Linked DNA regions of Homo sapiens. The protein of the gene in region 3 purifies or fractionates together with the protein of the main gene of each other region. This does not show direct contact. Each region holds a gene or a part of one and is shown on either strand. Other genes may lie near its edges. The genes, in order: TMEM106B, OPALIN and SLC2A6.

Evidence for each region.
Region 1: the proteins of SLC2A6 (region 3) and TMEM106B purify together in Homo sapiens (affinity purification with mass spectrometry; one large-scale study listed by BioGRID and IntAct). This does not show direct contact.
Region 2: the proteins of SLC2A6 (region 3) and OPALIN purify together in Homo sapiens (co-immunoprecipitation; one large-scale study listed by IntAct). This does not show direct contact.

Annotation. Positions count from the first base shown.
Region 1 is NC_000007.14:12,221,259-12,224,911, reverse strand, and holds part of TMEM106B (transmembrane protein 106B), read right to left. Parts: intron 687-3,653; coding exon 527-686; intron 1-526. UniProt on the Homo sapiens protein: In neurons, involved in the transport of late endosomes/lysosomes. May be involved in dendrite morphogenesis and maintenance by regulating lysosomal trafficking.
Region 2 is NC_000010.11:96,348,938-96,352,590, reverse strand, and holds part of OPALIN (opalin), read left to right. Parts: intron 1-1,180; coding exon 1,181-1,213; intron 1,214-2,764; coding exon 2,765-2,884; intron 2,885-3,653. UniProt on the Homo sapiens protein: Central nervous system-specific myelin protein that increase myelin genes expression during oligodendrocyte differentiation. Promotes oligodendrocyte terminal differentiation.
Region 3 is NC_000009.12:133,476,965-133,480,717, reverse strand, and holds the start of SLC2A6 (solute carrier family 2, facilitated glucose transporter member 6), read left to right. Parts: upstream 1-1,618; 5' UTR 1,619-1,658; coding exon 1,659-1,750; intron 1,751-2,301; coding exon 2,302-2,464; intron 2,465-3,476; coding exon 3,477-3,683; intron 3,684-3,753. UniProt on the Homo sapiens protein: Probable sugar transporter that acts as a regulator of glycolysis in macrophages. Does not transport glucose.

The DNA.
Region 1 (3,653 bases), on a different chromosome or scaffold from region 3:
TGCACATGTACCCTAGAACTTAATAATTAAAAAAAAAAAAACACGGCATTTTCACATATGCTAATTTACAAAAGAGAAACCAGTCACCTGTATTTCATCTTTAAAGCTGATAAAGGAATGGTCTATTAAACGTGGCAAAAACTGTATTTCCCAAATACAATGAAATCAAAATGTTACATTTATAAAATCTATCAAATCAACTATGTCAACACTTTGCTAGAAGTTATTCAGAGTCATATGCTGAAAAGTAAATTGTAATACCTTTTTTCTTTTTTTAGTTTATTTTACCCTCCTAAAGACATTTTCAAATGCTAAATCATTCTGTATATACAGAATTGCCAGTATTTATTATTGCTATTTTTAGCAGAACCAGAAATGGTAGAGAACGTCAATACAGAAAAGACATACAGAAAGCACACTGACCAGTGTCACATTTAACAAACATCTCTTCTCAATGGGGACAAAGGTGCTGCTTAATAGGATAAAAGAATGAAGTTAAACATTTTTCATATAAATTTATACTCACTGTGATATTTAAATAAATTGTACGCTTCTGAACATCATAACTGACATAGGCTGATTTTACACCAATGTATTTCACGTCGATAGAGCGAGGGAAAAGGAAAAACACAGCCAATCCAGAAAGGAGTAGACAGACAAACACAGAAGCCATCACATACAGCTTTCTGAAAAGGAAAAGAGGGTATTTAAGTACATGTGCATCAGAAATTATATAACACAACATTAGAGAAGGTATGTTCAATTTCCCCCATATATCAGCAGCAACATATATAAGATGCTAAATGTTACCAAATTTTCACATCTGAAAGTATTGGGTATGGTTGAGTCTGAGTCTATTAAGTGTTAAGATGTTCTCTTTAAAAGATGAAATCGGCGGGATGCGGTGGCTCACGCCTGTAATCCCAGCACTTTGAGAGGCTGAGGCGGGCGTATCAAGAGGTCAGGAGTTCGAGACCAGCCTGACCAACACAGTGAAAAACCATCTCTACTAAAAACACAAAAATTAGCCAGGTGTGGTGGTGTGCGCCTGTAATCCCAGCTACTCAGGAGGCTGAGGCAGGAGAATAGTTTGAACCCGGGAGGCAGAGGTTGGAGTGAACTGAGATCGCACCACCGCACTCCTGCCTGGACGAGAGAGCGAGACTCTGTACCAAAAAAAAAAAAAAAAGGAATCACATTTTTGGACACTGAAATTTTGGGCTTAAAAACAATAGAACATTTACTTTTTTGACTGCCAGAGCAGTTTTCACATTAGATTCAAGCTGAGGAGCTTCATACAAACGCACATTTCAAAACTCCCTCTGAATTCACTGAAGCAGAATTTTCACATGTTAAGTTTTGCCATTACATGATCCCCTAAAGTGACTGCTCATCAGAACCATCTTAGAAATAATAATGATGGGGAAGGGAGAGCATTAGGAAAAATAGCTAATCATGCTGAGCTTAATACCTAGGGGATGGGTTGATGGGTACAATAAACCACCATGGCACACATTTACCTATGTAACAAACCTGCACATCCTCCATATTTTTAAAATTAAAAAAAAATGACACAACCACATGGCTCATCAATGATTCTTACTATAATTAGTCTTTTTTTGAGTATTCTCATCTCAAAGTACTTACATACTCAGTTTTTAAGATTTTTTTTACATTGATCAACTCTGCTTTGAAGGTGTTGTTACATTTCTTTTTCTAATCAAGAAAAGATATTTCATGCAGGTATAAGACAAGGAAAAATTTGTAGGTAAAAACTTCCTCTTTTCAAGGTTAACCTCAAAACCAGAGTTCAAATAACTATTTCCTGTTCTCTCTAACATACAAGTCCTCTATTGGATGCCCACAACATCCTTTTTTTGTTTTTGAGTCTTGCATGACAATTACTTATTTTCCTTACAATCTACTTATACAAAAATTTTCCATTTTATTGTTTCTTCCACTCTCCGCCACCATTTCCTTTCTAAATGCTCTGATGGATTTAATCTTTGTATGTATTACAAGAGCAATTAAAGTGCCTCCTGCAGATATTTTATAAATATTTCTTAGTGTTTTAAGTTGCCCAAGTTAAGAACAGAGCAAACTGGTTTATTAAAAAACAAAATAATACAAGCAAACACAAATTTGCTAAGTCACTGCTACTAAGTCCATGCTGTTGTCTTGAGCAATCAAAACAGTTCCCACTCACTCATTTTGGACTCTCTCAACCTGAGTAGGGGTAGTGATCCCCACTGGATTACCTAATAGGAAATTTAAACACGTTTATAGTATCTATAACACACCAAAATACATAAAAAGGCATAAGAAGTGTTTAACATCATCATAATAAAATCTGAACTTTGTTGGATTTTCTACACTTCAGCGTTTTATTTTTAATTACTTATGGGCGGGTGAATCCATCATAATCTAGTCCTTAGGGCTTATAAGTCAGTCCTAGTTGTGAATAAATGAATCATGTTCTAAATTACTCTGTATACCACGTTTGTAGCCATAACGAACATTACTGAACCTGGTGGGACAATAAAACAACATTCCATCTAGTATTTCATTCCAAATTGAAAAGTTGGCTAGTTTACTGACAAAATATATGTCTCCATTACAAAATTAACTAGTAATGATTTTTCTTATGGCTCTAGTGATAGCAACCAAATCCTGGGAGTTATAAGGTGCTAATGAAGTTATGAAAGTTGTGTGGTATATCTGCAATCAAGTTAGAATTCCATTTTTGCCATTTCCTACCTGCAGTATTTAATGCAATTTACTTTTCTTCCTCTTTAAAATCCATGTTTGAGGATTAAATGACATAGCTAAAGTATACAGACAAAAGCAATTGATAAATATAATTTTCTAATAATCTTACAAATCACTCAATTTGTAAAGAAATAAAGACCCAAAGTTGTTCCCAAAATATTATAATTTTATTACAAATTGAGAAACAACAACTGTTCTTGGCCTTGTGTGAGCTCTGAGGACTATTCTCTCTGCTCCTATTGGGTGGTCTTTCCTCAGCCTCAGGTATGTTCCTCACACATATATGTTGATCAGGACACAGCTGCAGGCTTAAGAGCACCCTCTCCAGCTCTCTACCTTCTGGTACTCTGCCCTGCTAACTCTAGTCATTTTGGCTTTCTGGACACCCAGTTCCATCTCCATTGAGGAAGACCACTGAGCTCTGCCTGGGTTGGTTCCTTCCTTGTGCTGCAGGCTGGAACCTTTCTCAGACAGTAAGCTGGTACAATCACAGGGCTTGCTGGTGCAATCATAGGGCTTATCTCCTTTGTTTTTGCTTTCTCAGGAATCACTGCCCTGTGCTGGCTGATGTCCAATGTCTGAAAATATTGTTTACTATATTTGTCCAGTTTTACAGTGATTTCAGGTGGGGTATTTCAGGCATTATTCTATTTGGGTCAAAAGTGGAAAATTCAATTTCTTTGATTTTGTATCTCTTTGGTCTTATTGCTAAAACTCTTGCTCCCTAAGGCATTTACATAATAACTTATTTAAGTATAAAATTTCCAAACTACATCAAAGGTACTCCTAATAATGCAACTATTAAGTACAGTTTAAAATTTGTTGTGATTCTCTTTGCCATTTGGAACACAACTCCCGACATTTATAGTCACAGCACAATGTTT
Region 2 (3,653 bases), on a different chromosome or scaffold from region 3:
CCTTAGGGAAATGCAGGATTAAAGTAGTGTGGGGGTAGGGGTTGGGGAGATTGTGATTAGGTCAAAGGACAACCATTTAAGTACCAAGTTTCAGTGCCTGGTCATCAAAACCTTCTTTTGATGGGAGCTCTCTGGGAAAGAGGTCTGGGCTTGGAAGTCAAACATCCAAGTTCAGATTAGAGTTATGATTATCTGTGAAACCTTGGACAAGCCCCATAACTTCTCTGAGATCTATTACATTTTTTTTTTGTAAAATGGAGTTAATAATTGTCAAAAGTCCAAGCCCCAGGACTCCAGTATACTTGATGAGATTGCTGAGAGTATTAAATAAATAACAGATCTGGACAGAGCTTTGCAAAGTGTAAAGGGCTGACAAGAGTTCATAGTTCTGCTCCTCATTCAATCCTCCTAATAACCCTAGAGGCAGCTACTACTATCCCTGTAGATATTGTGTAGATAGAGACATGCAACCCCTTAGCTTGTAAATTGAGAAATGGCTGTTCTATGGCAGGCAGTGTGAGCCCAGGACCTGTGCTCTTAATCCCACAGCATACCACTTAGTGTAGTTTACATAGTTTCTCATGCAGAACTTTATTCCTTTAGATTTCCTAATCAAGGTAAACTCTTGCCTGAAATATCTTATAAATGAGTGAAATCCAATAACTCATTGGACCAATAACTCAGTGGACCAGAAACATGTAATGCATTCATTTCATGTAGAATTATCCCCAGGAGCATGGATATTTGACAACTTCTGCCATTTGTTTCATCACATACTTGAAAACAAGCAAGGCTTCCTTAAAGAGCCTTGCTTCCACCAGTATTTATATGTGTTTCCCTTCTAGCAATGGGGACAAGTAGGCCCAAAGTGTGCCAGGTGTGCTGACTAGGGACAGGAGGAAGCCCTTTTGAGTTGTAAAATGTGTCACGGTACATCCACAGGGTGAATAATGAAGACATTGCCTGAATTTCCTAATTCTTTTCTCCTTGTAGCCAAATTTTATTCCAATTCTTACCTGGGAAGCAATCAAGTTAGGTTCTGTTTGGTAGTTGTTAACAGAAAGTTTAGCAAAGGGATAAACTTTAGGCTTTATAGCCTAAACTTTGGCAGATTGTCTTGTATAATGTATATTCTATAGACTTTTTGTTCTTTTACAATATATGTTCTTTTTCCATACAGACGTCCTCTCCTGTCACAGGTGGGAAAGAAACGGTAACTATATCACTTAAATTTATAAAATGGGGATAATAATAATGCTCCATCCATCTTGAGCATTTGTTTTGAGCTTTAAAGTTTGATAGGTGAACTGTCACTAAGCACAGAATCTGGCTCAAGAATTATTCTTGACCAGCTCCGCTCAAAAGTGAGGGAGAACATGCAAAATCACAGATGGATTTCACAAAGGGTTGAGCAAAAGAAGCCAGACACAAAGAGTGCATATCTTATATTTGCATCTATATTATGCTGAAAAACAGACAAAACTACTCTATGGCAATAGATTTCAGAATAGTGGTCACGCACAAGGAGGCTGGAAGAGATTTGAGGGGGATCCTGAGATACTGCTAATGTTCTGTTTCTTGATCTGGGTGTTGGTCTTATGGGTGTATTCCTCATGTGAAAAGTCATCCACTTATATATTTGTGATTCATATACTTTATTATTCTTCAATAAAATCAATTTCCCCCTAAAGTGAAGTGAAGGTGAATCCATTATTAAATAACAGTTGCACTTTTATAGGGTTTCTGCAGATTATCTTCAATATTTCCAGATAGTCTGCAAATCTGAAAACTTATGTAACTAAAAGCATGACTATTTCCACTCCGATCAAAGCAAAATGGGAATTTGAAAATTAATAGGTTAATGCATTTATTGCAAATAAATTTTTTTTGAAAGGCTAAATGTCACTTTTTTATTTATTTATTTTTATTATACTTTAAGTTCTAGGGTACATGTGCACAACGTGCAGGTTTGTTACATATGTATACATGTGCCACGTTGGTGTGCTGCACCCATTAACTCGTCATTTACATTAAGTGCAAATAAATTTTTTTAATTCATATTAAAATAGTGTGGTATGGCTGGGCATGGTGGCTCAAACCTGTAATCCCAGCACTTTGGGAGGCCAAGGCAGGCAGATCATGAGGTCAGGAGTTAGAGACCAGCCTGGCCAACATAGTGAAACCCCATCTCTACTAAAAATACAAAAATTAGCTGGGTGTGGTGGCATGCACCTGTAGTCCCAGCTACTCAGGAGGCTGAGGCAGAAGAATCGTTTGAATCCAGGAGGCGGAGGTTGCAGTGAGCCAAGACTGTGCCATTGCACTCCAGCCTGGGCAACAGAGCAAGACTCCATCTCAAACAAAAAAAAAAGTGTGGTGTATAATAAAAGCTTTTATTTTTAGCCAAACAGGTGAAAATGACATCTAATTGTTGCTCTGAATTGTATCTCAGCTTTTCCTACATTGAAGAGACATTTGTATTTCTGTTCTAAAGAATACCTGTTCATATCCTTTGCCCATTTTTCTACTTGATCATTACTCTTTCCAACAGATTTAAACTGTGTAAATTAAGTCCTATGAAAGTAAGTCATTTGTCATGTGTGTTACAAACATTTTTGCACAGTATTTCATTACCCTTTTGATTTTGTATATGACGTTTATGATCCATGCAGATTTTTTGTTTTATTTTTATTCTATTGAATTTTTCCTTTATTATTGAAGACTCTGGGCTTCCTCTGACCCTGTGTTTTTCATTCTGTGCCAGGACTGTGGGCCCTCTCTTGGATTAGCGGCGGGCATACCATTGCTGGTGGCCACAGCCCTGCTGGTGGCTTTACTATTTACTTTGATTCACCGAAGAAGAAGCAGCATTGAGGCCATGGAGGTGATTACTAGCTTCTTTGGGTCCAGATGTATAGGCAGCCACCAGTATTTCAGTGAACTGGCTTTTGGACTAAGGGTGTCAGAATTCAGGGCCCATGTCTATTTCCTGAGGACAAGATGCTGGAAGTTTCTGGGCCATAATTTCCACTGCAGACATGACATTAGGCACCAGACAGAGCTGATTTGTCATAAAACCTTCAGGTCAGTTGAGGAATTCCTGACAAAGATGGTATTTGGGGTAACAAAAAGTAGCAGTGGAGAAGGATGTCTGTTGCCATGGCAAACACATGTCTGTACAGTGGGTGTGCTTTCTAAAGTTGAGAAACAAAAGCGCACAAGCTTCACAAAGAAAGGATGGAGATAACGTTAAGAAAGATAGGAGATGAAGAGGGGCTGAGGTGTCCATGATAGACACCATGATAGAATCACAAGGGAATCTATATCCTCCCCATCCAATCCACCCCTCCAATGCCAGACTGTTCTGGGGACTATGCTTAGAAATCAAAAGCCACCTAGACTCATATCCAACAAGGTTCCATGGTTGTGACACAACTGTGTCATGTGGACTCTGGGTTCTAATTCTATTCTCTATTTATTGACATTCAAGGTTGTTATCATATGGGTAAACATTAATTAAGAGATTGAAAATTGAGGTTCTAAACCTGACTCTGCCACTTTATGATTTATATGATCCTGGACAAGTGACTTAACATTTAATATGTCTTGGTTAGTTCAACTCCAAAATAGGAGTCATAGAAACTACCCTCCCT
Region 3 (3,753 bases):
GGCTGGTGTCAGACTCCTGGCATCAAGCAATTCTCCTACCTTGGCCTCCTAAATGCTGGGATTACAGGCACACACCACTGCACCTGGCCTAAAGTTGATTTTAAAAGAAAAAAAATACATTTTAAAAAAAGAGAAGGCCGGGTGCGGTGACTCACGCCTGTAATCCCAGCACTTTGTGAGGCTGAAGCGGAAGGATCACAAGGTCAGGAGTTCAAGACCAAGCTGGCCAACATGGTGAAACCCCGTCTCCACTAAAAATACAAAAATTAGCCGGGCGTGGTGGCACATGCCTGTAATCCCAGCTACTTGGGAGGCTGAGGCAGGAGAATCGCTTGAACTCGGGAGGTGGAAGTTGCAGTAAGCTGAGATCGTGCCACTGCACTCCAGCCTGGCCAACAGAGCGAGACTCCGTCTCAAAAAAAAAAAAAAAAATACACATATAGATATGTAAAAATACATACACATATATATGTATATACGTATATATATGGCCACGAGGACTGTGCAGCCTGATCACCATACCAGGGTGTGCCTGAGTCCAAAGCCTATGATCTTGATGGCAAGAAAACGGTGACGTAAAGGGGCTGCACAGTTTAATGGGGGCCCCAATAGCAAATATGCAAAATAGGCACATGAGGAAAAGACTGGAAGAGGCTAAAACGCCATCAAGGTCAGGCTGACGGGAGATGGATGTGATTTTATTGTTCTATTATGGTTGTATTTCAATCATAATAAAAGGGAATTCTAACTTTTAAAAATGCTTTACCATGTTAATAGCTAAAATGGGAAATGACCCAAATACTCAGCAACAAAGGCTCCGTTTAAAAGCGTGTGTGGCACGTCCATCCAACAGAGCAGGGCGTGATTCCGTCCTCTTCCCGAAAAGGCCCAAAGGGAGAGGTGGAACTGCTGTGGGATTTTTTGAGGACGGTCTTCCCGGGAATTTTCCATTTCTGCTTTTCTTATTTTTCAATGTTATCTTACTACCTGGGTTACGTGTCACGAGCTCAGGTTATTTCTACCACCAGAGCCTGGGGTGGAGGATACAGACCTCGCCCACTGGAGCTGCCCACAGCGCCTCGCCGGCCCCTCCTGCCTCCTTCGTCCCGCACATCCGCTGCTGCCCTGACACACCCCGATTCCCTGGTGCCAGGGAGAGCCAGGGCAGAGGTGGCCCTGAGACGCCACGCGACGGGGAGGGCTAGAGCGTAAGGAGGAGCGAGGTGCGCATTCGCTGTGACCCTGGCGCTCGGCTTCGCCTCTCTGGGCCTCGGTTTCCACCCCGCGGGAGCGAGTACGACAGGGGCTGCGCGCATTGCCGCAGTCACGCCTGCAAGAGCCGGGCCGGGTGAGCCGCTTCCGGCGCTCCGCGGGGGCCCCGGACGATCCAGCAGGGGCTCCGCCCTGGGACCCCCATCCTGTCTTGGGGCGTGACCTTCGGGGGCGCACGCGGTGCCGGCCGCGCCCGGGGAAGCCGGGTCCGCATCCGAGCATCAGGACAGCCTGCGGCCGCCCCATTGGCCGGCGTGTCTCTGCAGGGCCGTCCCACAGCCAATAGCGGCCAAGGGGCGGAGCCTGGCCGGTGCCCTCGGAGCTGCTGGCCCCGGGCGGCTGCTCCAGTCTGAGCGCCCTCCGCTCGCCCCGAGAGAGACCCGGCCATGCAGGAGCCGCTGCTGGGAGCCGAGGGCCCGGACTACGACACCTTCCCCGAGAAGCCGCCCCCGTCGCCAGGGGACAGGGCGCGGGTCGGGTGAGAGTCGCTAGGTTGGGGGCTGCGGGTGGGGCCTGGGGGTGGCCCTGGTTCCCTCCAGCCGGCGGCAGGCTCCCGCCCTGGGCCTCCCCTGACCTAGTCGCCACCGAGGGGCCATCTGGCTCCCTCCTGTCCCAGACACGCTACTCCTATTTAAGGAACTGGTCCCCCTAAGGGAAGGAACGATCCACGAGAGTACCGGGCCCAGCCCCCCACTGCCACAGACAGTGAGACTGAGGCCCCAGCGAGCAGGGGTTCTGCCTGAGGTCACACAGCAAGCCTCCAGCCGCCGCCCTGGGGGCAGAACCAGAGCCTCCTCTTCCGGAGAAAAGGCCCCAGCACCAGAGGCTCAGCCACTGCGGATGAGCTAACAATGGCCTGGGAATTTCCCAGGGGAGCTGGGGCTCAGGCCCTGGGAACGTGAATGGCCTTGGACCCAGGCCTCCCTAGCACTGCCCGCTGAGCCGGGCAGCCACTGGGTTCAGAAAAGGCAATGGTCCCTGGAGGAGGGACTCAGAGACCCTGGTCTTTTTGTCCGCCACCATCACCAGGACCCTGCAGAACAAAAGGGTGTTCCTGGCCACCTTCGCCGCAGTGCTCGGCAATTTCAGCTTTGGGTATGCCCTGGTCTACACATCCCCTGTCATCCCAGCCCTGGAGCGCTCCTTGGATCCTGACCTGCATCTGACCAAATCCCAGGCATCCTGGTTTGGGGTAAGGACCATCCTCTGGAGGAGGGTGGGTGCAGGAAGGAGGGACCTGCTGAGCCTTATCTCCAGCTAGGAACCTCCCAAATTCTCCACCTTGGGGGTCCCTCCAGGGCCCTGGTCCCCCCTCCCCCAGCCATCCAGGCCACTAGTGGGTGGGGTAAAGCTACAGGATTCCTCTGAAATGAGGAACTGAAAGCCAGTGGAGAGGGTGAGGGAAGGAGCAGGTGGGGAGGTGGCTGTCAGGGTCTATACTAGGTGGGGCTGAGGCTTCCCCGGGTCCCCACACCCACAGTTGGCTGGATGGGGGCAAGGGTATCAGGTGTCAGTGGGGAGAGGCACTGGCTGGGGCAAGGAGAGTCCGCAGGACAGATTGTGGGCTGATGGAGAGGAAGATCCCAGAGTCCCAGAGTCTAAAATTATAATCTTAATAGCCTCATATGTAGAGTTGTTAACATAGTAGTTAAGATAAAAATTCCCAAGGTTTACTGAGCACTTCCTATGTGCCAGGCATGTGTTGGGCACTGAACGTTCATTGATTCTCAGGGCCAACGCCACGAGGTAGAACTTGCGCTCTCCCCATAAGACAGCTGAAGAAACTGAGGTGCAGACAGGCTGGGCAATGTGCCCAGGTCCCACTACCAGTTAGCAGAGTCCAGAGGGGGTCCCAGTTGCTGCTGTACAGGGAACTTAAGAACCTCCAAATCTTAAAGCCCAGTACCTTCAAGTCACAGAATTCTCCTGTATTAAAATATTAGACATTTAAACATCAGGCTGGACAGAACCACTGTGGATATGTGGCGCAGCACCTCTTCCTTAGAGCAGAATTCCCCGTTTGGGCATCCCTAACAAATGGCTGTTCCTTGAAGACAGGAGGCTCCCTGTTTCAAGTGCTTGACTTGGCCAAGTGCTTGACCAGCTCCTGGGGTCGGCCTAGGGAAGAAGCTGTCCCTGGACTCTGATGAGATTGGGGTGCCAAGTGCCCAGACATATCTGCCCTGCACCCCCTTCCCCTGCAGTCCGTGTTCACCCTGGGAGCAGCGGCCGGAGGCCTGAGTGCCATGATCCTCAACGACCTCCTGGGCCGGAAGCTGAGCATCATGTTCTCAGCTGTGCCGTCGGCGGCCGGCTATGCGCTCATGGCGGGTGCGCACGGCCTCTGGATGCTGCTGCTCGGAAGGACGCTGACGGGCTTCGCCGGGGGGCTCACAGCTGCCTGCATCCCGGTAAGGCCAGGCCTTCCCACCCAGGCGCCCCAATGCCTCTGTATTGGTGCTGAGCCTCCATCTGACTAAG